4 linked regions of the Homo sapiens genome follow. The protein of the gene in region 3 interacts with the protein of the main gene of each other region in a pairwise test. Each region holds a gene or a part of one and is shown on either strand. Other genes may lie near its edges.

Region 1 (8,037 bases), on a different chromosome or scaffold from region 3:
TCATCAGGCCCAGAGAGCAGCACGGCTGAGGGGCCAACAGGAGCACTCATGCCGCCACGCGAGCTCCATAAAAAGACTCCAGGTGGCCTTGCAGGCTGCGTCACCACGGTTCTGAGAACAGCAAAACTGTCAGAGTCATCAGATTTACAGAGAATGGCAACCTCTCCAGCTTTAGAGGAACAGAAAAAAATATCATAAAGGAAAAAGCCAAGTAAATGAAAACGTGAAACTTCCAAGTAATTGTAAAGGCTAAAGATGAAGAGGCCCCTCCCCGCAGGGCACGCATTCTGGTACCAGATGCTGTAAAGCCACGGCCCCCAACCTTTTGGCACCAGGGACCAGTTTTGTAGAAGACAATTTTTCCATGGACAGTGGGGGCAGGGGGCTTTTCGGGATGAACCTGCTCCAACTCTGATGGGCAGGTGTTAAAGAGTCTCACAAGGTGCACACAGCCTGGGCCTCCGTGGGTGCAGCCACAACAGGGTTCTGCTCCTATGAGCGTCTAAGCTACTCCCCTCCTGCTGTCCCTGCTGCAGAGCCATGGACTCACCAGAGAAACGGCATAGCTTTTGCAAAACCAAGGCCCTCAACAGAGCAGAAGTGGGCAGTGCAACCACGGCACGTCCTGCTAGCTTATCGGCTTCCTGGGCCTCCCCCCGCCTCTGCTCACCACCATCCTCGGGTCCAGTTTCCCAGTAGCAGCAGTGAGCAGGCCCCGGGCAGCTGTGCCCGTGATGTGGGTTTCTCACTTGGGCCTCTGGCTGAGGGACCTCCCACCGAAGGTTCCAACCACAGCCCCACCTGACAGGCCACATGGACCTGATGCAGGTTCCTACAGAGCCTCCGATGAGGTTGTTTGCTGCAGACTGTTCACACAGAAACGCACACTGCGGCCCCCACCCCACCACACAAGGGCCCTCTGGGGGTGCGGAACGCAGCAGGGCCTGCTCCTGTCTGTGCCTGCCGCCTCTGTTGGCTTTCATCTTCCTGGCGACTCAAATGTGACCCTCCAGGACCTGAGGGCTCTGTGCTTCCCTCGGTTCTGGAAGGTTCTGACGACGACACCAGGGACTCGCCATAGGCATCCTCTTTTCTCTGTGTTGCATCCTGAGAGGTCTTTCCAGGTCCACGTTCCAGGCACCAACGCACTCCACAGCTTCTGTCCTTCCTGACCCTTCTGAGGGGAGGTTGTCTGCCTGATGCCCCCTCATCCAGAGTCTGTGGCATGCACTTTCTACACACGAAGACTCTGACCAGCACCCCAAAATCGGGGCACCCCTGTGGACAGAAGCCTCCCGCGGGCCTCAGCCCACTCAAGCCCCGTCCTCATGGGCACAGAGGGCTGTTCCGGGCCTGTGGTTGCTCAGCTGTCTTGTCTCTCGGGCCTCCGTCATCCCAGCGGCTCCGCGGGTTCTTGACGTTCAGGACCTGTGACTTGAAAATCAGAGGCCGGTGGCTGTGCAGGTGCCCTCGACTTGGGCTGTGACCTCATGATAGCCTTGGGCCATGCCTGGCAGGCAGGGCCCCAGATCTTCCACAGCACAAGCACGCACACACGCACGCACCCACACACAGCCTACAGTGTCAGCCACTTTTTGTTAAGTAGACACCATCAGTGCCTAGTTTTAGCCAAACCTGAGTCAAGGGTTGGCTGGCATCTTCTCAGAAGTGATAACAAACCAACATCCTTTCTTTTCAACCATAAAGAAATTCCTGACTTGGAAACTGATGTCTGCAGAAAAGCTAAAAGGCTAAGAAATCCTGACCAAGACTGTGTCAGTGCTCTCAAAATGCCTACTTCCCTGCACAGACACTCAGATGGTCACGTGGTTTAACCTCAGACACCGCGGCTAACAGTGCGTTGCGCAGTGGCTCACACCTGTAATCCCAGCACTTTGGGAGGCTGAAACGGGCGGATCACGAGGTCAGGAGATCGAGACCATCCTGGCTAATACGGTGAAACCCCATCTCTACTAAAAATACAAAAAATTAGCCGGGCGTGGTGGCAGGCGCCTGTACTCCCAGCTACTCGGGAGGCTGAGGCAGGAGAATGACGTGAACCCGGGAGGCAGAGCTTGCAGTGACAGCAAAACTCCTATCTCAAAAAAAAAAAAAGAAAACACTTTTCTCATCTTCCCGTAACATCTTTCCTGTTCAAAGTCAACCCATCAAAATAAGGAAAGATCATTAATCTGTTCATCAGCGCAGGAATGCTCTGTAGACGGAGTCAGGCTGTGCTGGGCTCCAGCTAGCACTCAGCTCCATGACCTACTGCCCAGCCAAGCCCCCATGCCCGAGACTGGGCAAAGGTGCCATTATTCTATGCAACAGCGAAAGCCAAGGCAGCTTTAAAGTCAAGACGTTTACCTGGAGACGACCACTGTTCAGCCACAAAAACACCAAGTTTTCCCCAAGGGCTGTGCAGGGGCCAGGCCTGGGCTCTGAGTCTTGAGAAAGGCTCAGAGCTCCCCCTCTTGAGGGGAAGCATCCACCTTCACAAGGCAAGACACTTCCTGCCACCAGGGAGGGTGTGGCCTTGGGGCATGGGGGCTCTTCTGAATGAACAGCTCCCTCTGGGCCCTAAATGCTGCCTGAGACTTGATGTCCCCTGCTGCCCTCAGGGACTGGCCACTTGCAGATGTTGCTGGGATCACACGCTTACGCCTAGAGGTAAGCCTGGCTCGTGGGAGGCCAGGCAAGTGCCTTTCCCGCGGACCAGTTCACCAGGCCCACGCTGAGCGGGGAGGACGATGGGCTGAGGACCGCAAAGCCGGTACTTACGGGAATGTGAGGTAGGGGCACCCGCCCATTGACCTGCACGCTCTCCTGCATCTCCCTGCGGTGCTGCTTACGGATCCTGTATGGGGGGATCCCATCCCTGTCCAGGAGAAAGAGGCAGCCGTTAACTCAGAGAGGAGCAGGAGGGCCAGCACCGTGCCAATAGAGCTCCTGGCCCCGACCGCCGGTCAGCAGGCAATGATGAGGACACCTGTGAGCCACCACCACTGAGACACGTGCACACAGGTGATGCAGGCACCCATGTGTGCACAGGGGAACATGTACACACAAAGGTTCACACGTGATGGTAAAGCCCAGGTGCCCAGCCACGCGTCTTCCTAGCTGGTATTTACTGGGCACCTCCACAAAGCCTCCTTGTGCCTGCCTGTTCTTTAGGGCCTGACAGCTAAGAGTGGTTTCTACATTTTTTTTTCTTCTTTTTTTTGAGATGGAGTCTCGCTCTGTCGCCCAGGCTGGAGTGCAGTGGCACAATCTCGGCTCACTGCAAGCTCCACCTCCCGGGTTCACGCTATTCTCCTGCCTCAGCCTCCTGAGTAGCTGGGACTACAGGTGCCCGCCACCACGCCCAGCTAATTTTTTTGTATTTTTAGTAGACACGGGGTTTCACTGTGTTAGCCAGGAGAGTCTCGATCTCCTGACCTCGTGATCCGCCCGCCTCGGCCTCGCAAAGTGCTGGGAGTAATTACAGGCGCAAGCCACGGCGCCCGGCCAAGGTTTCTACATTTTTAAAGGGTGGGGGAAGAATCTGTGACAGGGACTGCATGCGGCTGCAAAGCCTCACATATTCACTGCCAGCCCTGCACGGGAAACGTTTGCTGGCCCCTGCTTGTGGCCTAGACCACTGTGCAGTGTGCCTGCCTTGGAGGGCATTGCTAAATGGACCAAAAACATTTCAGGATTGCACAGTGGGCAGCCAGGACAACCAGTGCCCCACGGAAAGATAGGAGATGCCAAGGCTGCACACTCTGCTTCTCTCCAGGAGCTGGCAGGGCAGTGTGGTCTCTGAGGGAGGCACAAGGTAGCTCTTTAGCAACAGGTTTTCTTTTATTTTTTTCTTTTTGAGACGGAGTCTTGCTCTGTCGCCCAGGCTGGAGTGTAGTGGCGCGATCTCGGATCACTGCAAGCCGCTCCCGGGTTCACGCCATTCTCCTGCCTCAGCCTCCCGAGTAGCTGGGACTACAGGTGCCCGCCACCACGCCCGGCTAATTTTTTGTATTATTTAGTAGAGACGGGGTTTCACTGTGTTAACCACGATGGTCTCAATCTCCTGACCCCGTGATCCGCCTGCCTCGGCCTCCCAAACTGCTGGGATTACAGGCATGCGCCACCGCGCCCAGCCCGCAACAGGTTTTCTTTATGAACCCTTTAGAAGATCATTAAAACACGAAAGTCAGATTATACATGGTCTGAATAATTACCCCAGGGTTAAGATAACTCACGCACAACCATCCTTCATGAAAGCCCTCGCCCTCTCCCAGCTATTAGAAAAGCTGCCTTCGGGCTGGGCGCAGTGGCTCATGCCTGTCATCCCAGCACTGTGGGAGGCCGAGGCGGGCGGATCACGAGGTCAGGAGATCGAGACCATCCTGGCTAACACGGTGAAACCCCGTCTCTACTAAAAATACAAAAAATTAGCCAGGTGTGGTGGCGAGTGCCTGTAGTCCCAGCTACTCGGGAGGCTGAGGCAGGAGAATGGCGTGAACCCGGGAGGCGGAGGTTGCAGTGAGGCGAGATTGTGCCACTGCACTCCAGTCTGGGCAACAGAGCAAGACTACGTCTCAAAAAAGAAAAGGAAGAAAGAAAGAAAAGCTGCCTTCGGAAGCACGGCAGCTCCAGGGATCCGTGCCGCACCCAGGGGCCTCTCAGAGCTGCCAGGAGACACAGGACGACTGAAGAGAGCGCCCGACCCAGGGCTGCGTGGCAGACACGGCAACTCCTGAGGCATCCTCGGCTGTCACAGCACCACTGAGTGTTGTGGGCAATGGTGAGCCGAGTCCAGGTCTGGCTCAGCCACGGTGGGCGTCAGGAACAAGTGAATCTAAAACTCACCTAACACTTGCCTCGGGGTTTGTTGAAGTGTCCTGAAGCCACCAACCTACTGGTTTCTTAGACATGATACTTGGATTGGGTAACCTCCACAGGCCTCCGTGGATTAGACACTGACCCCACATCTGTGTCCACAGCCCACAGCCTCTCGAGTGCCATGTGGAATGTTGTGAGCTTGCCGCCAGCACAAAAGCTGAGGGCAGCTGCCCCACCGGAATGATGCTCTTCACCTGTCCACTTTTTACCTCTGATTTGCTTTCGAGTACGTGTAGCAATTTCACATTCCAAATTGTTAAACACTTCAGTACAAACCAAGATGAACAGAATATCAAGAAAAAAAATACCTATTTATTTTAGGTCCTCCCTTTAGGAAACATATGTCCCTTTTCTTGGAGAGAATTAGGAGACTTTTTGAGAAAACTGAGTTGGCAGGTTACTTTTTGTTGTAGTAACAGAGTTTTGGGGAAGAGGGAAACCAGATGCTAGGATGCATGTCAGGCGCTCCGTGGGCTGCACTGCACCCAACCACCTGGCCCGAGGCTTCAGGACCACGGCAGGCACTGCTTCAACTCCAGTAACCTCAAGTCAGGTGCTGCTAAAATCACGTCAACATTTTATTTTGAAGATTCAAAATTAAACGAGGATGAAAGAAACCAGGAGAAGCCACACACAGCAGCTCTGCCCGGAAGGGGCAGGGAGCTGCCCCTGCACTACCACAGCTACCTGGGGAAAAACCAAGGGGCCAAGACCTACGGCAATGTGGGCTGGCTGAATCTGGTTCAGAAACAGAATGTGACAACTTGTTCTCCTCATCTGAAATTCAGGTTTTGGAAAAATGTTTAAAGACAGGCAAATGAAAAGAACAAACCAGCCAGGCACAGTGGCTCATGCCCATAATCCCAGCACTCGTGAGGCTGAAGTGGGTGCAGTTTGCGCCCAGGAGTTGGAGACTGCATAGTGAGGCCTCGTCTCCACAAAAATAATCATCATCATCAGCCGGATGCAGTGGCTCATGCCCGTAATCCCAGCACTCATGAGGCTGAAGTGGGTGCACCGTTTGAGCCTCGGAGTTCGAGACTGCATAGTGAGGCCTCGTCTCCACAAAAATTATAATAATCATTAGCCAGGCGTGGTGGCGCACGCTTGTAGCCTCAGCAACTCTGAAGGCTGAGGCAGAATTGCTTGGGACCAGGAGACAGAAGCTACAGTAAGCCAAGATCGCACCATTGCAGTCCAGCCTGGGTGACAGTGAGATCCTGTCTCAAAATGAAAAGAACCATAAAAATGGTACATACAGTGGGACCATCACTTAAAACATATTCATAAAAAGATGGGCAGAATCACCAGTAGGTGAGAAGTCCCTCTCTCCTCCTCCAGCCCTATCCAGATCTCCAGGCTTTCCTCATGGAGAACCCAGCTAAGCGGGAAAGACATCTGGGACACCACTGGCCGCAGTGGGGATGGAGGGTGGTGGTCCGCGGGCTCCAGCTGCTCACAAGTTCATAGCCGCTGGCTTCCTCCAATGCTGAGGCTGCTGCAGGGAGACCCTGGTTCCTGCGGCTCGGCCCCAGCCCTGGCTAGGATGGCTGGTGGGCAGGTGGCGTGTGGCGCACAGACCAGAGCTGGGAAGGTCTGAGCTTCATGGGTAACCAAAACCCCAAATGACCCCCACAGGCTGGCAGCCAGTGCCCTACTGCAACAAGACTGTTGGCATCATCTAATGGCTGGGGTGTACATAGGTCCCAAAAAGCCAGCTGCGAAGCACAGGGGAAGAGGTCATAAAACAAGCACGTTCCTACACATGGGGTTTCCCTGGACAATGAAAGAATAAGCTTCTGCCTGTCACCTCGAGCGTCACACATGTGTGGCCCAGGCCTCAGCACAACCACAGCATCTTCCCTCACTCCTGCTCCCAGCCCCTTGCCAAGTGGGTGACAGGGACAAGACAGGACCCTGTACTGCACCAGCGTCGGCAGAAACGCCACCCTCAGGGACCACATCACTCGCCACAGCCAGTGGTGAGGCAGCTGGCCTGTGCCTGTCTTTAAGCTGAAACCCCAGACTCTGAAAACCAAAGAGCAAACTCTAGCCCGGGCAGCCTACAGACTGTCTTAGGTTCACCCTCGATCCTTCCTCATAGGGAGGTCCCAGCAGCCCTGGTCACAGAGAGAAGCAACCGACACAAAGCTGAGCCCTCACTTGTACTGCTTGGAGGACAGCCTCTGCGGTACAGCCTGCCTGCATGTCCAGACGCACTCTCACTGAGACCTGGGGAGCCAGGAAACACTTTTCCTGAAGACAAAGCCCAGGCATCTCTGGGTCAGCACGAAGCCCCCTCTGAGCTGGCCGCGCTCTGCAGCAGGGTGGGACTTACACGCTGCCATCCGCAAGAAACAGGGTGTCTGGGGCAGGACTTACACATTGCTGTCCTCAAGGGACAAGGTGTCTGGGACCGGACTTACACACTGCTGTCCGTGAGGGACTGGGTATCCGGGGCGGGACTTACACGCTGCTGTCCGTGAGGGACAGGGTGTCTGCATCGCTGGACAGGCTCTGCTGCTCGCTGTCGTTGGCACTGGTGGCTGGGGCCAGGGCATAGCCGGCATTGACATAATAGGGGTTGACTGGCTCCCGCCAGGATCCATACCTGCAAACAGGCAAGCAGGGCATGTTAGTGACAGCCTGCCAACAGCCTCTCATTTTATTTCACATTTTCATGTTATCTGAATATCTCAATGTATTAATTAAAAACACAAGCAATTTGGAGAAAATAAGGAGCATGGAGAAAAGACCAACATCTCCACCTGTCCTCTTGTCCCTCTGTCCTTTTCAACGGGGTGCATTAAAGCACCGGGCATCTTTCCAGATCTCTCCTCTGATTTTAGGCGGGGGCTTTGGTGCACACACAGAGCATCCACACGTGATCATTTGGGTTTGTTTTCCGTGCACGGTACTAGAAATGGGACGCAGATGTTCTGCTCATTCTGCAGTGCGCGTCGGGAGAGGACACTGGGTTTTGATCAGGATGAGGCCCTTGGGATTCAGCTCAGACGTCTCTGCACCTGTGCCCAAGTCCAAGCATGGCCACGGGACTGATGTCAGGGCCGGTATGTGACAGTGTGTGTGGGTGGTGCCACCTCCTGTCCCCCTACCTAGAGCAGAGGTTCCTCCCCAGCTCCTGGGACGATTCAC
Region 2 (7,978 bases), on a different chromosome or scaffold from region 3:
ACACAAATTACTCAATCCAGTCCACTGTCAGTTTAGGTTTCAGGGCACAGTTTATTAAAAAATTTTAAGTAACTGCAAGTCCCACCCCCGATTCCAGTATCTGTCCCCTCCATATCTCAACAGAGGGGCTGTCTATCATATGTGGGTGGGATGGGAAAGGAAGAGGTATGGTCCTACTATGCAAGTTACTCTCCAGCCTTCAGCTTGTGCTGTCCCAAACCTGAGTCCCTCTGACCAAGGTAAGTTGTTCAGAGAGCAGTGGTGCCACCCTGACAGCACTTTAGGACAGTGCCATCTCCTGAGATCACTAGTCACATTCCAGTCATTGTGACCAATATATTAGTTATCAGTGGTGGTCAAAGGTAGACCAGAGGCACAGGCTGTTGAGGGAAGACCCTCTATTAAAGAAGGTTCTAAGAATGAAACATGGAATGCTCAACTTGTTAAAGTGCTCAGCTACAACATTAAAAAAGTGTCGGGAAGGTGTCTATTGGTGAGAAAGCAAGGTACAATCTGAGGGGCTCCTGGAAAGATACAATTTTAAAAGTACACAAAAGGACTTCTGCTTAAATCATTCCAGCAATGAGAGAAAAAAGCTTAGAGCTTAGCCTCTGAATTACTTAAGCTGTAAATCAAATGTATCTCTAGGTGGAGACCAACTCCTTCAATTCCTCATGGAGACGGAATAAAACATTTACCACTGTCTTTTGCTCTAACTCTTCTCTCACTAAATAATTGAAAATCTGGTTTCCTTAATGGACATCACCACCACAAAAATGTCCACCATGGGCAAGTGATCAACTTAAGTATGAATGGCCTATAAACCACTTTCCTGCAGGGTTGGCTAGCCAAAACCTGGAGTGGGACGAGAAATTTGAGTTTCCACATCTGCCAGGCTGAGAGGCCCATATCTAAGAACAAGAGGTCCATAATGTATCTATTCTCTTGGCATGATTACAAGATCCATGACTGGTGTGCCATGGCAGTGAGGGAAAAGTATCCATCAGCAGCAGTGGTTATCTTGTTCTAGAAGCTAGTGTATAGCCTCAGCAGTCACTTGTAAGTCCAGTGGGCAGTGGCCCAGCCCTGGCCCTTGCATAGGTCCCGGTGGCGGAGAAAACAGGCATGGACTCGGAACCGACGGCCACAGTGGGGACAGGCATGCAGGGCTCCAGCATGGGTCTTCATGTGCTCTGTCAGATGGTGCTTCAGCTTGAAGCGCTTGTTGCAGATGCCACAGCCAAAAGGCCGAAGGCTGAAGGTCAGCATGATGTGCCGGTCACGCTTTGGCTTCACTGCAAACCGCTTCCCACACAGGCAACCAAAGCGTTTTCCATCTGCAGGGGGTGTCCCCCCTAGCTTCACAGGCCCATGCACGGCCTGGCCTGCTCCCCCAGGTCCTCCACCCCCTGACAGGATTTCATTCCCATGAAGATCCACTGGTTTCCAGGATGGACCCCCTCCCCCAGATGTTGGCCCTGGCCCTGAAGGCAACAAGAACCCTAGCTCCCCATTCCCTTCAGTGTCCCCTCCAGAAAACACTTTGGTTTCCTCCTTTGCTCCTCCAGGCTGAGTTCCGCTTCCTGATATCTCCTCCTTAGGCTCGAAGGGTTCCTGCTTAATGTAGAAGATTTTGGGGGGCAGTGCAGGAGGGGCAGGAAGCTCAAGTGGTGCACTCTCACCCTCTGGAAGCTTTCGGGGAGTAGCAGTCATGGGCAGTGGGTGGGGTCCATGAGGACGGGGAAAAACCCCTGATACTCTCTGGGGCTGAGGAGTCTGAGAGAGTGTGGCTGACCCCTGGTCCTCATCATCATCATCTTCCTCCTCCTCCTCTTCTTCTTCCACCTGAATTTGCAGCACTTCTCCCAGTTCACTTCCCTCCCCTCCCACAGGGCTCTCAGTGGAAGCAGGGCTTTCAGTAGAAGCAGAGGACTGTACTGGGGTCTGGAAAGGCGAAGAGCGAATGCACCAGCCTCCTGTAGAGGATGTAGTGGAAAGAAGGGCATGGTAGGAGTTTCCTCCACGGGCTGAAATTCCACCACCTGAAGTTTCTAATTCTCTAAGAATTTCTGAGCACTGATCTACTACCTGCCACATTTGAAGGCCACTGGCCACAAGGAGATGAGCAGGAAGAGCATCCAGTGGCAGGCGGAGACGCCCTGAATAAATGAGCTGGAGCAGCCCCTCGAAGGCATCGGCTTCAATGACACTCGGTAGAGTGAGACGAGGCGCATCCCCCAGAAGCAGCTTGTCATGGAAGTAAGGAGAGGCAGCAGCTAACACTGCTTTATGAGCCCTAAGTTCCCGGCCCTGCACCAGGAGGGACACATCACAGAACTTTCCCTCTAGCCTGTGGCGGTTCAGAGATTCCAGCAGAGACGAGCTATGCTGTGGGAACTCGATCTGGATTGTCCGTGGGGCTGGGTTGCAGGTCGGGGAGGCGGGTACAGGCGGCAAAGGTGTTGGGGTTTCCATGGCCTCCTCGAAGGTGACAAGAATTGGGAAGAGGAGAAGGGCTTGGGGGTAGACTCCACGCGGGATGAAGGCTGCAGAGGAAAAAGATGGAGGTCACAGAAGCCCTGGATAAAGGGAGCCACATCTTCTCAAACAACCCCCTCCCCACGAGCAATAACTGGAAACTTTTAAGTCAGTGGCGGTTTCTGCAAATCAGTCCCGCACACCAAGAAAGCAAAAACAAACAACAACAACAACCACCACCACTAAACACCAACAGGGGTTTTAACTTCCAGCCCCTGTGGAAGATAAGAAGGAGGTCCTTCAGCCACCAGCCTGCCTTCACCTGCCCAGAACAGCTCCTGCCCCGCCGCTCCGTTCCGCCTCACAGTGCCCACAGAGGTCTGCTCCCGGGAAGCCGCGGTCACCCGGACACCGCGAGTCCCGGCCCGATTGTCCTTCCCGCCGACACGCCCCCGCCGTTACACACGCGGCGCTGCCCTCGCAGTTACAGTGCCGCTACAGCTCCGTCCCAGACCGGAAGCCGCCGCCTCCCCGCCGGACACCGTCGCCAAGTGCGGCGGGCGGAGCTAGAGCCGTAGCCAATCGAGGAACGGCAGCCTACAAGCCTCGTGTTGATTGGCTACTGCAGACGAGGAGGGCGGTGCTAGTAGGAGGGCACAGGCCCAGGGTGTCCTCGCAACGGGCGTCCCGGGGAGCTGCTGAAGTCCTCCCCGCTGCAGAGGACCGAGAGGCAGGGCCCGGGAGAGAACAGCCCGGTCGGAGGGGGTGGGCCGTCAGCCGCCCCGGAAAGCTGCGTTTCCCGGTGATTAAGTGTAGCACCCGCCCCCGGTAGGTCCTGAGAGGGGCGAGATTAGTTGGGTACTTACCATGTGGGCCTGGCACTTGCCCACATCACTTTGTGTCTTCCCACCGGCCCTGCGAGGGTGGGGGTTGCCGTCCTCAGTTTCCAGGCGGGGGAAACGGGCTGGAAGCGTCACTCAGCTAATAGTAGTGGACCTGGGACTGGAACTCAGATTTGCTAAGGAACCAGGCAGGTTCTTTCCTGTTTTCTGCACGGGAGCATTTTAACCAGCAATTAAAGAAACCTTATTTCTAGGTAATTTTTAAAAGAGATAAATGTGGATATATACATGAACTCTTTTATCAGATAACGCCGCTGTTCCTGGCCTCGGACTAAGTGACACAGTGGTGAGGGGAGAGTTAGATTGGAGAAGTTTGGCCGGTGCAAAACTCCTGCTCTAAAATATAAAAAATCTCATTGGGAGGGGAGAGTGACATTCTATGAGGAGAGTGTGGCATCAGGTGGGGATATACGGTTTTCCTCTCAGGCTGTCAGCTTCCTTTCAGAAAGCAGATCTTACCACCGTACAGGTCTGGAGAGCCCTGCCTAAGAAAGTCGGCACAGCGATAAAAGAACAATCTCCGTTTATTAAACATGTTTTTTTCTGTTTCACCACACACTCCAGAAAAAAAGGAAATGGGGCTGGGAGTGGAGAAAAGGGGACAGTGAGGGGGGATAGATAAGGCTGGGAGTGGGGTGGGGAGGGAGAACGAGAAAACAAAATAAAACAGGTAGGAAGAGCAACTCCCTACCCTTGAGGTGGTGGGTGGGGAGGGAAGCAGAGGGGCGGGGGGGGAGGGGGCCAGGAAGCTCTGTACAGAAGGGTTGCCCCCAGCCCACACACACACACCCCGGATATGTACAGTACAAACCCCAGATAATTACAACAGCCAAAGAAGAGAGAAGGAAGGTTGGGGAGGGTCCAGGGGTAGGGCCTGAGGTGGGGAAAGGGCACAGGGATAAAATTTCACATATTTACAACTTTTATATAAGTATAAATTTGGCCCCGGCTGGGTGTATGTGTAGGGGGATGGGACTGAAGGGGAACTGTCCATACAAAAGAAAGAGGAGTAGAGTCTAGGAGAGTCTCAATACCAAACGCAAAAGGATGAAGGGGGCAAGGCTGGGTAGGGGACAGCAGTCAGGGAAGAGGGGGTGCCAAGGAGGGGCTTCTCCCCTCCCATGGCCTACCCACCCCAAACCCCATCCATCCTACCTCCCCTATCCCGCCAGAAAACTATGTACAGAGAAACACCGAAAAATCGTGGAGCTGGCGGGAGGGAGGGAGGTGGAAGGAGATTGGGAGGGGGAGGATGAGAGGGAAGCCCAGCCCTGTCCTACCTCCCCCAGGGGACAGAGTCATGGAAGGGGGCCCCCCAACACCCCTCCTCCAACACAGGTCCCCCCACCCTGGGGGAGAGAGACATGGCTTTTCCTAGAGTAAGTTCCCCCCTCCCCCTGGGAGTAGAGACCAAGAAGAGAGAAGGAAGGGGCAGAGGGGACTGTGTGTCAGAGTAGGACAGATCAACTAGCCTGTCCTCCCAACATACACACCCTCCTAAACCCTGACCCCTCACCCTAACCTCAATTCCACCCCACCCAACACACTGGGGGAGGGGGGGGCATAAGCCCCCTCACCCCGCTCTGGGACCAGCCGAGAGCAGATCAGGTGTGGGGAGAAGGGGAGACAACTCCCATTCCCCCCTTGCCGCCCCCTCCCTGCCCCGGTGGCCCCCTCCACCCCATCTGGGTTCTGGGTGGGGAGGGAGTAAATTTAAGAGTGGTAGAAGGAGAAGGAGTTTGTGCGTGCTGAGCCCCCCCAGACGCTCCTGAGAAATCAAGGGGTAATAGGGCCCCCTCACCCGGGGTCCCCTCCCCATAACAAGGGGGGCAGGGGAGGCCAAAATGGGGCGGTGGAGGGGAGTTAGATTGTCAGCTCTGGTTACTGCTAAAAAAATCACCCTGAAGTTGAAAGTTTGGAGGTGCCACACCCCCAGGGTGGGGGTGAGGGTCTGTCCCCCAGTGCTCAGGGGAACGATGAGGCAGAGGATGGGGATAGCACCCCGGAGTGAAGGGGTCTGTACGGGGTAGGCGGTGTCCTGGGGCAAGGGTCCCTGGGGGTCAAAGAGAGGGCAGCACCCCAATGGGAAGGAAAAGGGGGCGGCTGAGGGTCCCCACTCTCCCTCCTGGAAATGGTGCAGTGGTGGGGGTGGGCAATCAGTGTGCCTCCCAGGGAGGCATTCGGGGAGGCAATCCCGCTGTTCCTCGGTGATGTCCAATCCTGGTGGTTGGTGCTGTTACAGGGTGGGGTGCACAGGAAAGGAAGAGAAGGTCTCTGATGCTGGGTGGGCTAGTGGTCTGCGGTGTTTCGGAACTCGCCGTTCTCCGTAATCTGCAGCCGGGGTGGGGGTGGTGGGGCTGGGGGGGCCAGGCCATTCCACGGTGGGGCCAGCGTCACACGCGGGTTTGTTGGACCCAAGGGGGGAAGCTGCCTCTCCTGCAAGACACCAAAAAGGAGAGCGCGGACTTATTGAGACGCTTCAAGGGGGCCTGGATGCCAGTCCCCTAGCAGTGGCCTCCCCTATAGCCAGCCCACACCACAAGCCATGGACCACCCCCTCCTCCCAGGACAGTCCCCACCATCCTCCTATTTTGTTTCTCACCTGCAGTAGAAGTTAACGTCCTCTGGGATCAGAGAGAAGAGAATCTCACCCCTAGACTCCTAACAGGGGCCTTCAAGCCTTTAACCCAGAGTGTCACACCAGGAAACCAGATCAAAACAGCAAGTTCCCACCGCACCCCCAACCTAACCCTTCTCTGGCTTCACCTGTGTATATTCCTTGCCCATCCCACCCTCCTCCTCTTGAAACCCCCTCCCACCCATCCCCAATCCGAGGTGGGAACTTCATGTTGAGGAATAAGGGGAGGCAGTACAGCAAAACCTCATTAATCCAAACCCCTGTGGATTTGGAATTTCTTCATAATCTGAAGAAAAACTGAGCTTGCATTTTCCTTTATCTGTGAAGAAAAGGTGTACTAAGCAAATTAGTGGTGGAAATATGTCTGTAGGAGGGGATATTTAACCCATACCAGAAAACAGACTTTTGAATCCTATCTATTCATTAATGCATGCTCCCTGAGGAGTGGAAAAAGCCTTGTTCATCGAGTTCTGTATATATTTTGAAGACATGCATTTCATTAAATAGACACTGTCATTCCGTTTGTCACTTATTCACAGTGGCCATCTTCTCAAATATAACATTCCAAATTAGAGAGAGGTTTAACTGTACTGGGGGGAAAGGAAGGGGATTCAGGGAAGTGATATGGGAAGGGAAAAATCTTGTGGGAGGGCTGCCCCTCTCTCTCACAATTATGGCGGAAATGACTAGGAGCTTCTGCAGACACAGCATGCCCCAATCTCTGCATCCCTGGGAAGCAGAAACTGGCTTTATTCTTTTCCACTCCCATCTTCTTTTCAGTCCTTCTCCCTGGGCTCCCAATTAGAGGGTGAGGGGTACCAGACCAGCTCCTACCCCTGGTTCTACTCTCATCACCTCCTATAGCTCCTTGACCAACTCCTGGTTCCTGCCCTTAGCTCCGCCTTCTGTTCCTCTGCTGGGAGAAAAGAAAGCCATCTGAATTTCCCTACGCTTCTGGTTGGGAAATTCACTTCCTTCTCTCTTTGGCTGTTGTAATTATCTGGGGTTTGTACTGTACATGTCCGTGTGTGTGTGTGTGGGCTGGGGGCAACACTTGGCTTTTTAAAATTCAGGCTCAAAACTAATTTCTAATTAATGGCTGAGTTGCAGAGAGACCAATACCTACCACAAGTGGTTTAGAACAAATGTCCAAATTATTTCCTGGGCCACATGGCATTTAGGCTTGGTAATATAGCTATGTCTGACCTTAGGATACAAAACCTTCCAAGTAAAAGCTTCTATATAAGCTCTCCCTTCCATCCTAGGATCAAGGAGCTAACCTCTCAGATCACCCAAACCCCAGCCTTGGGTATGAGATACCCAGCAAAACTGCCTTCTTAGCTTGCTGGGTATCTCACACATTTTCTGCAAGTCAGTGAGAGGAAATCACTTATGGTAGGGTATCCTGAGTATGGCGGGAGAGCAGGGAAGGAACCCCCAGATTCCATTCCCTCTGTTTGTCTGCTGGTGACAGCACATAAGCATGCCCTGGACACCCCCATGGACCCAAATTTAGAAAGTGGATAAATTAGGGTGCCATTATTCATTTTACAAAAGAATTCACTGCAGGAGTCCTTTAAATGGCAAAGTCCCCTGGTGCCTTTTAGCATCTTTATAGATCACCAGCTACTTTGACAGAGAGGCTGGGCAGGCAGAGAATTAAAATTACAGTGTAAGGAGCCACTGCCCACTGCAGCTCAATCCCAAAGAAAATCGCATCTCAGAAATGATGGCTATAGCTGACAGGTTCTCATTTACTGGCTTTTTAGGTAGGGTGATGTGTCCGGCAAGGCCACTCGATGGCAGGAGAGGGGGAGTGAGTGGCATCAGCAACCTGGGGATGTGAGCTGTGAAGAGTACATTCTTTACCATGCTGTTCCTGGCACCTCTCCCTGGGAATCAACATGCCTACTGAGCCCACGATCTGATCTAGGAGGATGTCTCTCCCCATTTCTAAACT
Region 3 (7,484 bases):
AACTGCCCTAAGATAATTGGTTCCCAGTTTGAAACCTGTAATCCCTTTTCCTGCCTTCATTATTGCACTTAACACGCCTGTATTAATTTGTGCCTCATCTAGGCAGAGTTATTTAGGACAGTGGCTTACTGATCTTTGTATTCTCGAAGTCTAGCACTTGGTAGGCATCAAGTATTTGTGCTGAATGAAGATATGACTGAAGAAATTCTTTTTCTTTTTTTTTTGAGACAGAGTCTCACTCTGTGGTCCAGGCTGGAGTGCAGTGGCACGATCTCGGCCTACCGCAACCTCCGCCTAGCAGGTTCAAGCAATTCTCCTGCCTCAGCCTCCCGAGTAGCTGGGATTACAGGTGCCTGCCACCACACCCAGCTACTTTTTGTATTTTTGGTAGAGACGGGGTTTCACCATGTTGGCCAGGCCGGTCTCGAACTCCTGACCTCAGGTGATCCACCCGCCTTGGCCTCCCAAAGTGCTGGGATTACAGGCATGAGCCGCCGCGCCCGGCCTCTGCACCAATTCTATTCCTTTTTTTTTTTTTTTTTTTTTTTTTTTGAGACAAAGTCTCGCTCTGTCGCCCAGACTGGAGTGCAGTGGTGCGATCTTGGCTCACTGCAAGCTCCGCCTCTCGGGTTCACGCCATTCTCCTGCCTCAGCCTCCCGAGTAGCTGGGACTAATGCCCTGCCACCAGGCCCGGCTAATTTTTTGTATTTTTAGTAGAGACGGGGTTTCACCGTGTTAGCCAGGATGGTCTCGATCTCCTGACCTTGTGATCCACCCGCCTCGGCCTCCCAAAGTGCTGGGATTACAGGCGTGAGCCACCGCGCCCGGCCGCCTCTGAACCAATTCTTAAAGGCAGTTGCTCTGCTCCTCCAGCAACAGGTTCTCGTGGAAGTAAATGAATCTAGTAACAACTTTCTGATTAATTCGTATTTTTTTCTGAAGGCAAGCTCAGCATGCTTAATATGTATTTTTAAGACTATACATAAAGAAGACCTTCCTGTATTCAAAGTAAAGCAATTAAAAAAGAATAGAAGGAGGGGAGAGTGAGAAAATAACCAATGACACCAGAGCTTTAATCGTCACACTTTTATTAAGGAAACTTCCCCATAATAAGTGAAGAGGTAGTTCATAGTATGTCTAACATACAACAGATTTAGAACAGCTATTCATGAGCTGAAATAAAATCTTCTGGGTTGTTTAGGACAGTATTTTAGAAGCAGTGACATTGGTCACCTTCCATTTATAGATCTGCTAATAAAGAAACTTAAATTAAAATCATATCTGATTTACCTCAGAGCCACTTCAGTTTGGAGTTTAGTATTAAATAATAAATAAATAACTGACAGAGTAATTTTTTTTTAAACCAAACTATGGTAGAGAGTCATCTCCTTTTTAGTTCTCCTGGGGATCCATAAAATACAAATGCTGAATGATAAAGGTTTTAAAAATCTTCCTCCTCTACAGAAATATGACTAGTTTTGAAAGTCATCTTCCTCTGTAAAATACTGGATATCAGTAACTTGACTTCTTTGCAATATAATCTAACAAACACGTATAAGCAAAGAAGGAGGAAAGTGAAGTTCCACAAAAATTAGAAAAATGTCTCACAGAAACAGAACACCTCTCCAGCCAAAAATGGAGGAGACTGTAAATCACTTCAGTGGTTTGCATTTTCAAAAGGTGAGAACTAAATGTTTTACTGATACAAAAGCACAAAGTTGCTGATTTTAACTGATCGAATACAGCAAGGCAGCTTTCTTTATTATTTCTAGTATAAAAGCAAATTGAGACTTTGTTTCACTAAGACCACATGAGACTATAAGCTCCATGAGGGCAGGGACTATATCAATCTTACCTTCATTATCCTCAGTATCTAGCATAGTGTCTAGCAACAGTAGGTGCTTAACTAATGTTTCTTGAACAACTGAATGAACCCAGAAATAGTCTCCAACCAAAGAGACCAATCTTATTTGAACCCGTGCCTTTTAGTCTTCAAACCAGTAACAAAAACAAGACATGAATGTGAGCAAACGAAGCACTCCAACTTGAAATTTCCCTGTGAAGAAATGATGTTGACAGAAAATACCAAAAAATGCTGTTTGGTTGACAGGGTAGAGTCTCACTATTGCATAGAATTGGTACTCTTTGGCTGGATCATGTAAAAATCACAATGCTAGGAAGCATCATTAGACCATATAATGAGTGATGTTAGGCATAAGGTACCTATTAGTCTTACCACTCAACTGTATTATCATTTTAAATATTTGAACAAAAGACAAAAATCATACTTCACATCTGACTCACATGATGATAATTTACATATGATAACAATGATACATGTAAACGTATCAAATATAACAATTGAAGATCCCCTCTGACTATGCAAGCCTAATTTTTCAAATCTGCATGCACTCTCATAGCTCAAAAATAAAAACAGAAAATCCTGATGGAAACTAATAAACAGTTTTCCACACAAAATCAACTTCGCATTTAGATTCTTCTCACATTATTCTTGCTTTTTCCCTCCCTAAACAAACCTAGCAAATCACTCACTTGGATGGGAAGAATATAATATTCATCTAACTAAAAAATAATTAATATAAATCCCTCTGCGATATTTTGTTGGCAAAATTCAGGTTGTCTCAGAAAGCCAACAGGGAGACACAAAGGGGAAACACAAACTAGGAGCTTTTTGCTAATGCATTATTCTTCATGTACTAAATCTTTTAAAGCCAAGGGATAGCGAGAAGAAGGAAGAAGATGCTAGCTCATATTTAGTTATACCTTGGTCAATATTGGCCAGGCCACCTCTTCAGGCTTTGGATACCCCAATTTAAAATGAAAGAGGTGGAGTAAATGACCTCTTAAGATTCTCTAAGGACTCTACTAATACTATTACCTAAATCTAACTCATGGGTGAGAAACAAATAAGACTTAGAATTTTAGGTCTGAAGTACAACATGTGTTTTAGGAAAAAGAGCTGTTTTGTTTTTCCTTTTTGAAAATTAACTTTGTATTTGCAATCAAAGGCAGCAAGGTGGCACAGTGTACCTTTAAGAGGTATCTGAATACAGAAATTTGATTGCCCCTTCTGTGTCCAACCTAACTTTTATCATCCGTTTTAGAAATTAAGGTACATGAGGAAACGAAAATTCAGAGACTTTTATGGTGCACAGGACAAAACTCTGATGGCCAAACTCACCTTTCTGATGGCTAAACTCTGAAACAAAATTCAGAGACTCCCAAATAGCCTCTTTTTAGAGAGCCCACTATACTTTAGCACATTTTTAGCGTGCCTGGAGCAGTCCTGATCTCAAAAGCATCAACAAGTTACACATTAATTATAAGCATATGGCCTCTTATGGGACATGCTACCAGAGAAACCGCCCATGTAAGTGCTGTTGTATAAGTGTACTTCTATCCCTGTTGATTATGCTCCTCATGGTCATCCCTAACTATCTGCCTGCAGGTGTTCCTCAAGAGAGAGTACTCTGGTATATGTGAACAATTCAATGAGATGAAGTTGGGCTATGATACTGTTGAAAAGAGTACATAACAAACCAGCATACTTCTTTATAGCCAGCTCCAAGACAAGTACAAATGGTAGGAAGCAGATTCATTTATCAGACATGGAGGAATAATCAATAGGCAACCAGAAGTTCTATCACATTTTCAGGTCAATAGCAATATCACCTTATATCTCAGCCTATTTTCTACCAAAGAAAGATTATTCACTTCTCTTAGCATAGCATCTATTAGTGGAGAGTAGGTGACGTTATTAACTTGTTGGTACCTTCGGAATGTGCCTAGTGAAAAGCCTAAAACAGTGTCAGTCTAAGACATAAGTCAATGTTAGGTAGACAAAAGGAATTATTCCTTGGGAAAGGAAAACAGACTTTACAAGATAAATAACTCAAAACAGAAAATGGGAGAGGGCAAAAGTAAGGCAAATCCACTCCAAGTGGTAAGTTGCCTGGTCTATTAGTGCTTTGACTCACTCCCTACCACCTACACAGAGGCTTTGGAGAAGTCAAACTAGCAAAATCACTCCTAAAAAGACTAAGACTATTGCCACATTGTCAGTCAGTTCGAGTTGTGAGCATGAAGCCCCTACTCAATTCACACAAGTACTATCATTTCTTAAGTTCAGGACAGCTTGGGCCAGTTTACCTGCATCCAGGACCTGTGTTGCATCGGGTTGTGGCTGACACCCTTTAGAGTCTGTGACTGTTGTACATGCAAAAGAATCAAAATCCACTGTGAGGTCTTGTACATTTCTCTCATTGGCATTATCAAAGCTGTTTTTGCCATGCAGCTGTTTAAGGTGTTTCCTCAAAACTGGTTTATGTGCAAAAACCATATCACAATAGTTACATTTATGGGGCTTATCTCCACTGTGAAGGTTAAGATGATCCTGTAAGGAACACTTCTGAGAAAAGGTTTTCCCACAGATTTTACACTGGAAAGGTTTAATTCCGGCATGCACACGCATGTGTCGATGAAGGTTGCCTTTCTGAGTGAAAGTCTTGCCGCAGAGTAGACACATAAAGAGTTTGTGCATTTTTAAATGGTTGGCGTAGTTCTCCAGGTGACGAAACACCCTGGTACACTTTGGGCACTGGTGATGCCACTGTAGGCCTTTGTCTACACCTCGAATATTAGGGCCAAAGACATCTTTTGAGGCCATGATGATGTTATCACTGCCTGTATAAGAAAGGGCATAATTGTGGAGATGGTTTTGTTCTATTTCACTTACTCTGTTTTCCACAGTTGAATTTATCAGGGAGTGCTGGGGCTCTGATGAATGTAAAGCAGTGGGTTCAGAAGAAATAAACTGGTTCTGATCTTTTTTACTTCTAACCTCTGATACATCCCCAATAGATTCTACCTTAACAATCTGAATATCACTGTCCTCCATATCCATACTGTCTTCAGATGGATGAATACAAGGTGAGTCCTGCTTTGGGGAGCCTCTGGCATCTCCCTGCTGTTCTTTTGACTGGGGAGAAGCACTCTGTGGTTCACATCCCTCTTTACTATCCATTGGTTGTTTTGGCTTTATAAACTTCCACAGGGCCTGTGTGCACCGTTCTACAATGTGGCTCATCTGAAGAAAACTTGCAGCAGTCAAGTAATTTACCAGTTCCATCTCAGGGAATTCCAGCACACCACTATAACAGGATAAGAGCAATTGTCTCCCCACTTCGGAACTCTGTAATATGGAGATTTTCACCTCTCTGGAATCATTCAGTAAAAATTGGTCTCTTAAGAAGGGGGAACCTGCAGCAAACACAATTTTATGTCCCTGTACCTCAATATCATCTATGAGAACTGTAACATCACAAAATTTATTCTCTTCTCTTAATTTGTTCATTTTTTGTAACATTGAATCTCCATAATTTTCAAACTTGAAGTGAAGGAGATCTGATCTTTCAGACATTTTGGCAGACCTAAAGAACAGAAATGTAAAAAGGTTGAATTTAAGGAAACTCAGACAATTAAGAAAGCTGGATCTACCTTCCAAAAACAAATCTGTGTTGTCATATCTGTTTTGTATGTATCCAAATGAAATCTTCCTTGAAAGGGGAAGCCACTATAACAGGTTTCAAAGGCTGTTAAAAATTACACCTTACCAATATCAAGTGCCAATTGCACCTAAAGAGCAGACTTGTATTTGTGTAAATAGCTTGGCATTCGTTCAACTTTTAAAGATACTTATACGAGAATAGTGCTTGGGATAGTCCAAGAGTATCTTTTAACTTCTCAAATGAGAATTCTATCAGGTTTCTAAAGCAAACTAAAACATAACCCACACAAGTAAAGATGAAATAATTATCTTATTTTATATAAAACTGTGAACCTGCTTCTTCTAAGGCAAAAGCAATTGTCTCCCCACTTCAGAACTCTAATATGGAGATTTTCACCTCTCTGGAATCATTCAGTAAAAACTGGTCTCTGAAGAAGAGAGAACCTACAGCAAACATGGGTTCCTTTGCTCTTTTTCTTTGCTCTATATTTTAAACAACTGCACTGACACTGCTTGTCCAATTCCTGGCCAAGCCCTTTTCTGTTTAAATTGATATGAACTTATTCATACAAGTATTTCTGCAATAAAATGAAAGTCACAGAACTAACGGGACAATGTTTAGGCAAAGACAAAGTTCTTTGTCCTGTCCATTCTGGAAAAATCTAAACTCCGTTTTAAGGAACACTTCTTTATAAAGAAAATAAGATACTTGATGTAGAAAAACGACATGAGCTATATGGTGGGAATCTGAGTAGCGGTAACATAGATCGAATCAATCCCTATTAGATTTTGTTCTTTAAACTTTATCCCTATTTATCAATCATTAGTCATTATGTGGACTACTAGAACTGATTCATAAATGTTGCCTTGGCTTCCTGCTTATGTTCCCTCTAATACAGTTTTCATACCACCACATCTTTCAAAAACAGAGATCTGATTATACCCCACCCCTGCCTAAACTCCTTCAGTGACTTCCCGTTGTCTCCTGGATGAAGACTAACCTCTTGAATATAAACTGATTAATGAAACCCAATCATAATTAAGGTAAACACTGGAAAAACCCATTCAACAATGGAGAAGGTATCTTTCCCCAAACTGTCTGCATACTGATTCCTTTATATAGCAATTCCTTTGGTGAAAGTCTCCATGTTCTGATTCCATACTCTCATAAATGATTTTCTCATAACCTGGCTTCCCATTTGTCTCTCTCAAGGGAAAAGATAAATTTGCCATGCCAACACGATAATTCCAGTCCACTAGTCACTGTAAACTAATGACATAATGAATTGACATTCTCTTTATATACCAGTCTTCTATGAGATTGGTAGGTATGCTAGGTCTGTCTTTGAGATATAGCTCTATAATCTCAGTGCATCAAGAAATTCACTGAATTTTATGTATTAATCAACCCCTTAGTTCAGAGTCAGATGAGACAACCAGCTTCTCCTGGCCACATCTGGACCCCAAAGTCCAATCTTTATCATCTTAACTTCTGTAACAATGGATATCAGCTCCTGATGGCAGAGTCCAGGTTTTATTCTTATTCCTTAATGCCTGATACATAACAGCTCTCTCTTGGCTCCAGACCTAATGATACTTGTTTCCTTAGTTTAAAACACTACTTTCTAGGCTGGGCATGGTGGCTCACGCCTGTAATCCCAGCACTTCTGGAGGCCAAGGCAGGCGGATCACCTGAGGTCGGGAGTTCAAGACCAGCCTGACCAACTTGGAGAAACCCCATCTCTACTAAAAATACAAAATTAGCTGGGCGTAGTGGCACATGCCTGTAGTCCCAGCTACTCAGGAGGCTAAGGCTGGAGAATCACTTGAACCCGGGAGGCAGAGGTTGTGGTGAGTCAAGATTGCACCACTGCACTCCAGCCTGGGCAACAAGAGCAAAACTCCATCACAAAAACAAAAACCAAAACAAAAAACAAGCCAGGCATGGTGGCTCAT
Region 4 (7,377 bases), 3.9 Mb from region 3:
GCGTTCAGTTGATGACCTTCACTAAGCTAAATTCAGCAGTTTGTCAGCTACAAAACATTAAATAGACACAATTAAGAAGTTTGAAAAACATTAAGCAGAATTTAAACTAAAGTAACATGAACATTAACGGGAATAAAACGTAACTAGATTCATGGTACTGACATTTTAGACAAGTGCTTCAAATGGAAGGCAAAAGTGGGGGGACACAGCGGTGCAGAAATCCAAAACTCAGTAGGTACACAGTTCAGCAGCTTATCATTTCTCCACCTTGATAAATGTACACCCAATAATGACAATAACAATAATGAAAATGTACTAAGCAGTTACTAGGTGCTGCACATTTTTCTACTTCGTTCCATTTTCGTTTACAGTTCATTGGATTTTATTATCCTCCACACTGCAAATAAGAAACGGAGGCTCAGAGGCATTAGATAAATTGCTCAACTTCACAGAGCTGGTAAGCAGACTTGCTAGGATTCAAACCCAGGTCTCTGATTCCAAAGCTGCTGTTCTTTCCCCACAGCCTCCGAATGAAGAATCACATGACTTTTACCTTTTCCCATGATCAGAGGGAAACGTTTCAAAGTTTCAAAGATTCGTTTTGTGCTTTCTGCACCCTAAGAGAGCAAGCTGAAAACATCCACCTTGAATGGTAGCATTACATATCACTTATCTATGACACAGAAAGCTGATAAAAACAGATTCTCCTTAAAAAAAAAAAAAGGCAAATTACAAAACAAAACAAAAAGTTGTTTACCAACAAAAATCAGGAAGTATTTGAGTACCTATTATAGAAGTCCAGCCCCAGTATTAGATACTATAAGGTCTCCGAGAGGAGTATTAAGACACAATGCCCTTAAAAAAACTCCCACTCCAGTTGGGACAAGAACAAGTTCAACAGCCAAGGAACAAGTGCTGAATCCGAGTGCCACAAAGCCATGGGGGCAGGGAAGTCAGGGAACACCCTCTGGAGGAAGTATATCTGCAGCAGGGGCTTGAAGGAAGTGAAATGGAGAATTTGCACAGAAAAGAAAAAGGAGGCCAGTGCTTCAGAAGGGGGAACAACAGAAGCAAAACCCAAGAAGCCGTAACTAACTCAGTTCTGCAGGGGACAGACTTGGAGAAGCAGAGAATAAGGTTCAGGTAGGTGGGGTGGGGCCAAACCACGGAGAGTCTTGAAAAGACAGGGTGGGCGGTGGCTGGACATACCGTGGCAGGCAAGAGGCCACTACTCAGCTTTGAACAGTGGTATAACTGCCGTGGCCTCTTAACTGATCTCCTGGCCTCTAGCTTCTTCACCAATGCCTTCAGTAGTTTCAACTTTGACCTAGTGTTTGAGTTGAGGAACTAGCCGCGGCCCACCTCTCCTCCTACTTCCCTCCTATATGAACCCTTCTCTGCCAGGAGACTGGTCTATTCACTAACTCCATAGGATCACTGGGCCTGATTCCTCTTTTCCTATCTGAATGCTACTCATCCTTTAACACCCGGCTCAAATCCCGCCCCTCACTAAACCCTCCCTAACCACTCGGCCTACAGTGACCTCCATCTCTCCTTCTTAATTCTACAGCACACAGCCTTGTCTCATCAAAATTACCTTTTCATAAGTAATGTCTCAGCACCCTGTGTAAAGCTGCCTGGAGACTGTAAGTGTGCCTTCTACTACTTTCCCACCACATGGAACAGCATCTTGCCATTTAATAAGCAAGCAAGCACTCAACTATTTTTTGACTTCCTATAGTAAGTTTGGCTTTAGCATAAAGGAAGGATGGGGGAGGGGGGAACCTCTGGAGTCAGCGACCAGCTTAGAAGCTGTTGCAATAATCCAGATGTGAAGCAAAGAGGGCCTGGACTAGGGAACAAAGAGAAAATGGGCAAATATAAACAACAAAAAATTCTGCATGCAAAAACTCGGCGGAATGTGATTAACTACTACTAGGGACAAAAGCAAGGGATGAATGAGGATTAAGGTGAGGTTTAGAAAACGCTTCTTGAAATCATTTTAAAGCCTGTCTGAAACAAAATGCAGTAAGTGGCTTAAAAAGTCCACACTGACAAAGTCTTCAGCGAAACTGCCCAGTATCTTGAATCAGGGACAGCCCTTCCAATTTGAGACATACACGGAATGGCAGAGCCAGAAGGGTTCTTAGAGAGTTAAATGAAACCCTCAATGATCACATGGGGAAACTGAGTCCTAGCATGGAAGGGGCTTGCGGAAGGCCTCAAGACAGAGACTCCCAGACGAGTGCCGCCCTGAAAGCACAGCCACTTGGCCTAGAAGGGCACTGTTTACAACCCCGGTCAGCCCCAGCCCAGCCCTCCGCAATGGCAGGACCAACTGAGCGCGAGTGGCCACGGAGACGTCTGGGGCCAAGCGCAACCCGTCGCCGCCGCCTGTTTACCTGGAGGAAGGCGGTGGCGTGAGGCAGCGGCTCCGTGGCAGCCACCCGAAGGGCCGACCCCTGGCCCGGCCGGCTCTCCAGGGAACTCAACCATCTGCCCTCCCTCCCCGTACAAAAGGGAGCGCCCCCAGGGCTAGGGGCCCGGAAGCTGGGGATCCCGAGACGCCCCGGGCGGAGGCTGGGAGCCCAGGGCAGCTGCCCGAGCGCGACCCTCAGCCGGGCCAGCGGCGCCGGGACTCCAGGACCGAGCACAGCTGGCCCCTCGGGGACGCGCGCCTGACCCCAGCAGGTGCCCGGGGCCTCCGGACCCCGCCCGGCCTCGGCTCCCGCCCGCGCCGGCCGCCTGCCCGCGGGACTGACCAGGCGCGGAGGCTCCCGCCCCGCCGCGCCCAGAGGGAGCCGGACAGCGGCCCGGGGACTGCCCCCCGCCCCGCCTGCCCCGCCTGCCCCGCCCGCGCCTAGCCCGCTGCTCGCCGCCCCCGGCCAGCGTGCCTCACCTGTCCAGAGCGCCGCGCTCACATCGCCCGCCCGCGGCGCCCCCTCCGCCGCCGCCGGCGCCAGGCCAGTCCCCGCCGCTCCGGCTGCCGCCCCAGCCCGCGCCCCCCGCCCCCGGAAGCGCTTCCCGGCCCCGCCCCCTGGACGCCCGCGCTTCCGGGCAGGCGCCAACCCGGGTGGTGGCGTTGCGCGGCGGACCTCTAGCCAGGGCCCGGGGTCCTGAGTCCCGCCCGGTTGTCGTCCCAGAGCCTCGCCGCGGGCTAGCGGCAGCCTTGGTCTGGACCCCGGAGTCCCGACTCCGGGAAGCGGCGTCGGCTCTGCCTTCAGCCCGCGCTCTCCTCGGCGCCCCCTGCTGGCGGGAGAAGGGCGGTGCAGTGGGGCGCGTTTCAGGGGCTCCCGGAATCGAACGGGTGGGAGAGAGCCCAGGACCCTCGACCCCCCCAGCACTGGGGGGCCTGCCCCCAGCCCAGCCCTCCCTTCCAAGACCCTCCCTCCTGCATCTCTTCAGGCGCATGCCACGCACCCGAGCTGCTCCTGGCAGGGCAGCTGAAGGCAGCAAGGTGCAGTGGTTAGCAGCAGGGCTCTGGGGACCTGTCATAGGGGGTCTCTTGACTTACCACCTTGGGCAGGTTTTCTCTCTCTCAAAACGGAGGTGGCTCCCGCCTGTAATCCCAGCACTTTGGGAGGGCGAGGCGGGAGGATCACTTGATCCTAGGAGTTTGAGACCAGCCTGGGCAACATAGGGAGGCCCCATTTAAATTTTTAAAACTTAGCCAGGCTTGGTGGCACATGCCTGTAGTTCCAGCTATTGGGGAGGCTGAGGTGGGAGGGTCGCTTGAGTCCGGGAGGTCGAGGCTGCGATGAGCCATGATCGTGTCACTGTACTTCAGCAGTGGTGAAAGAGCAAGACCCTGTCTCAAAAACAAAACGGAGGTGAAAATTCCCAACTCACTGTTATAAAACCCATGTCACAGAGCATGCCTCAAAAAATGTGCATTTCCAGACCCTTGGGGACACCCCAGTCTTCAAACCGTTGGGTGGGAGTGGGAGCCTCACCCAGCGTTTTCCTCCCAGCATTAGACCAATGTAACACTCTTTGAAGAGCTTCCCTTTGCATTTTGGTGGAGTCAGTAGTTGTGGCAGAGGTTTATTTTCCTTTTTCTGGCTTTGTAATAAAAATAAACTAGGAGGCAAAGATACCAGCTCCTCTTCAGGATAGAAAGCTGCTGAGACTTCCTGATGTTACTTCATCCTTTGCAAGCAGGAACTGTCTCTCCAGGATCTGTCCAGTGGTCATCCTCCAATAGCAACAGCTACCCTTTGTCAAACACTCCATGCAGGGCACTGTGTAGACACTTGACAGCCATGACCTCATTTAACACAACCTAAGGAGGTGGCGATCTATTCCCATTTTAATCCAAGAGGGAACTGAGGCTCAGAGAGGTTGAGTGACTTATCCAAAGTCACACAGCTAGTAAATGGCAGACTTGGGATGAACTCCCTTGTCTCTCTGACTTCTTATAGCAACAGAACATCCAAGCATAGGATTTTAGGCAACCTGCCTATAACTGCAGGCACCTGGGCAGACAGGTAGTCTCGCTCTTGAATTGCTATTGCACTTGAGTTGTTTTCTTGAGATCTGTCCCCAAGGGTGAGATACGTGTGCACCCAGGGCACAGGAATACATCATCTTGTCAGGTTTCCTCCGGACTGCTGAGCTGATTCTTATGCCCAGAGGTTTTCCTACAGATCAGCCTTGGGCCTCATCATTTTAACTGATTTTTGCTAAATTCGTTGATAAGAGTTAGGGTCTTCTTGGCTGTGACACAATATTTGCATATCATTAAGTACTATAAAGACTAAAATAGTTCCTGAGTTTTTGACCCTCCTCTGCCAAGTGTCTCAAAGTTGTTGGCCCTCTGTCTGTCCATTGGATGCTGGGTATTTCCCTCATAGTTTATATTTACTCTCCCACCTAACTGGGTCACCAAACTCATCATTTATATATTTTTCCAGCCCCTTGCTTTTTTCGTTCTTGTTGTTTAGCTGATTGTCATGGTCTCTACTAATTTTAGTTAAAAAACTGTCACTCCTCCACAGTTGAGGTGCATATGTGTTTCTGTTTTCCCATAATCTTTGTGGCAGTTTTAAATGATTTAACTCGTTAGCTCCCTTGAAATCAAGAAGTCTAGGGAGTGATGTACAAGTCTCATTTTAATTTATTCCACACTTACCCATTTTCCTCAGCAGCATTTATGAAATGATCCAATTCACATTTTGTTGAAGTTTGGGGTTGCCCTTCAATCCACAGTTAAGAAGGAGTTTTCTGGCCAGGTGGGGTGGCTCATGCCTGTAATCCCAAACACTTTGGGAGGTTGAGACAGGAGGATCACTTGAGTCCAGGAGTGTGAGACCAGCCTGGGCAATATAGTGAAACCTCATCTCTACAAAAAAGAAAAAAAAAAAAGCTGAGTGTGGTGCCACGTGGCTGTGGTCTCGGCTACTTGGGAGGCTGAGGTGGAGGATCGCGTGAGCCCTGGAGGTCAAGGCTGCAGTGAGCCATGATCACCACACTGCACTCCCGCCTGGGCATCAGTGTAAGACCCTCTCTTAAAAAAAAAAAAAAAGGTGTGGGGCTTCCCATCGTGGGGGTCAGCCTATGTGAGGGTGATGGCTGATAGCTTACCAATACTTGTGTTCTGCCTTTTCTTCTTCCACAGCACATGGCTAAAACACATCTCCAGCCTCCTCGCCATGTCATGTGTTAATTGAGGTAGCCTGTGAAGTGCTTGGCATGTGTGAGTCTGCCGTAAAAGTTAATTCCCTTCCCATTCTTTCCTCTTCTCCCCCTCCTTGGACAGATACGGCCTGAATCTCCGCTTCTCATTGATTCCAGATTCCTGAGCACTTGGAGAGCCAAGATAGCCAGGTTATAACTGGTCCCAGCTTCTCCTTCTGGCCTCCACAAGGGACCCTTTCTGCCAGAAGTCCAGCTGCAGGACTTGGCTCTGGTCCACCTGGCAATCCTCAGAGTTTGGCAAAACCTGTTGACTGTTGGCACCTGTTAGTCTTTATACACACACATAACTCATGTGTCTCCCTTAAACAAAATATATGAATTATTTGCGGTTTCCTCATTCTTCCTCCTCTAATCAGGACCCACTAGTGTGTCCCTTCCACATGCCTCACTACCTGAACAGTACCGTCGAAGGGGGAGCCTGTCTCTCCAAACAGTCCCAAGATGTCCACTGACTTCCAGATCATTCCAGTAGGTCAGGGTTCCTTCTACCTGGCTGCCTCTGCAGAGGAGGGTGAACATTCCTCATGGGTCAGGGAGAGCACTTCCTTGGAGAACCCTCAGACACTCACCACCTTTACAATGGGGACCAGGTAGTTGGTTTACCCCTCGGAGCTTCTCTTCTTCACCTGTTAGATGATGGTGAGGCTGAGGGGTGTGATCTGAAGAGCTTCTTTTCCGTGATCAAGACCGGGCAGTAGAGAATCCTGTGGCTAAGCAATAAGGCAGATCCAGGTCTAAACCCCAGCTCAGCCACACAAGACCTCTGTGACCTGAGATGGGGCAAGACATTTGACCCTACTGAGCCTTGGCCTCCTTGTCTGTGTAGCAACGGGGATGGTACCTACCTCAGTGGGCAAATAAGATAATAATTTAATGTTTTCAGAATGGCATACTCAATAAATATTTTTGATCAGCAAGAAAGCAAGGGAAGGCCGGGTGCAGTGGCTCACGCCTGTAATCCCAGCACTTTGGGAGGCTGAGGTGGGAGGATTGCTTGAGCACAGGAGCTCAAGACCAGCCTGGGCAACATGGCAAGACCCCTTCTCTACAAAAATTAGTCAGGCATGGTGGTGTGCACCTACAGGCTTAGCTACTCTGGGATGCTGAGATGGGAGGTGGGAAGATCACTTGAGCCTGGGAGATTGAGGCTACAGTAAGCTCTGATGGCACCGCCGCATTCCAGCTTGGGCAACAGAGTAAGACCCTGTCTCAAAAAAAAAAAAAAAGAAAGGAAGAAAGGAAAGGAAAAAGGAAAGGAGGAAGGGAAGGAAGGAAAGGGAGGAAAGAAAGGGAGAAAGGATGGTCTCAAGAGCCGCCACCCATTTCCATGAGGCCACTCCTCACTTCCTGCAGAGATGACTTGCTCTCTACTCTCCGCCTGCCTCCCCTGTTCAGCTTCCATGCAGGTCCTGCCTCTCTCTGACCTGAGCCCTGCTGACACCCGCTGGGCCCAGGTGCTGCCTCTGGAGTTCTTCCCCTCTGTAATTTTCTTCTTGGTCTGCGCCCTCCTGGTTTCCTGCTGGTTCTCCAGCACTCTTAACTGACTCTCCTGGCACTCTGCACTTCTTTGTAGTAATCACAATGGCAATTAATTACCTGTATAATTATGTGTTTAATAGCTGTGTCTCCTACCACTAGCCTGTAAACTCCATGAGGATGAGAACTTGTCTGACTTCTTCC

The links.
Region 1: the proteins of ZBTB26 (region 3) and AXIN1 interact in binary tests that used the Homo sapiens proteins (3 or more experiments, as listed by UniProt).
Region 2: the proteins of ZBTB26 (region 3) and ZBTB9 interact in binary tests that used the Homo sapiens proteins (3 or more experiments, as listed by UniProt).
Region 4: the proteins of ZBTB26 (region 3) and ZBTB34 interact in binary tests that used the Homo sapiens proteins (3 or more experiments, as listed by UniProt).

The regions. Positions count from the first base shown.
Region 1 is NC_000016.10:307,192-315,228, forward strand, and holds part of AXIN1 (axin-1), read right to left. Parts: intron 7,493-8,037; coding exon 7,352-7,492; intron 2,879-7,351; coding exon 2,782-2,878; intron 1,435-2,781; exon of another isoform or gene 1-1,434. UniProt on the Homo sapiens protein: Component of the beta-catenin destruction complex required for regulating CTNNB1 levels through phosphorylation and ubiquitination, and modulating Wnt-signaling.
Region 2 is NC_000006.12:33,449,598-33,457,575, reverse strand, and holds ZBTB9 (zinc finger and BTB domain-containing protein 9), read right to left. Parts: upstream 3,001-7,978; 5' UTR 2,801-3,000; intron 2,547-2,800; 5' UTR 2,476-2,546; coding exon 1,054-2,475; 3' UTR 32-1,053; downstream 1-31. Other genes in the region: SYNGAP1 (ras/Rap GTPase-activating protein SynGAP), read right to left, coding at 5,670-5,816. UniProt on the Homo sapiens protein: May be involved in transcriptional regulation.
Region 3 is NC_000009.12:122,914,494-122,921,977, forward strand, and holds the end of ZBTB26 (zinc finger and BTB domain-containing protein 26), read right to left. Parts: intron 5,452-7,484; 5' UTR 5,442-5,451; coding exon 4,116-5,441; 3' UTR 1,073-4,115; downstream 1-1,072. UniProt on the Homo sapiens protein: May be involved in transcriptional regulation.
Region 4 is NC_000009.12:126,856,262-126,863,638, reverse strand, and holds the start of ZBTB34 (zinc finger and BTB domain-containing protein 34), read right to left. Parts: upstream 3,001-7,377; 5' UTR 2,900-3,000; intron 2,461-2,899; exon of another isoform or gene 2,403-2,460; intron 48-2,402; exon of another isoform or gene 1-47. UniProt on the Homo sapiens protein: May be a transcriptional repressor.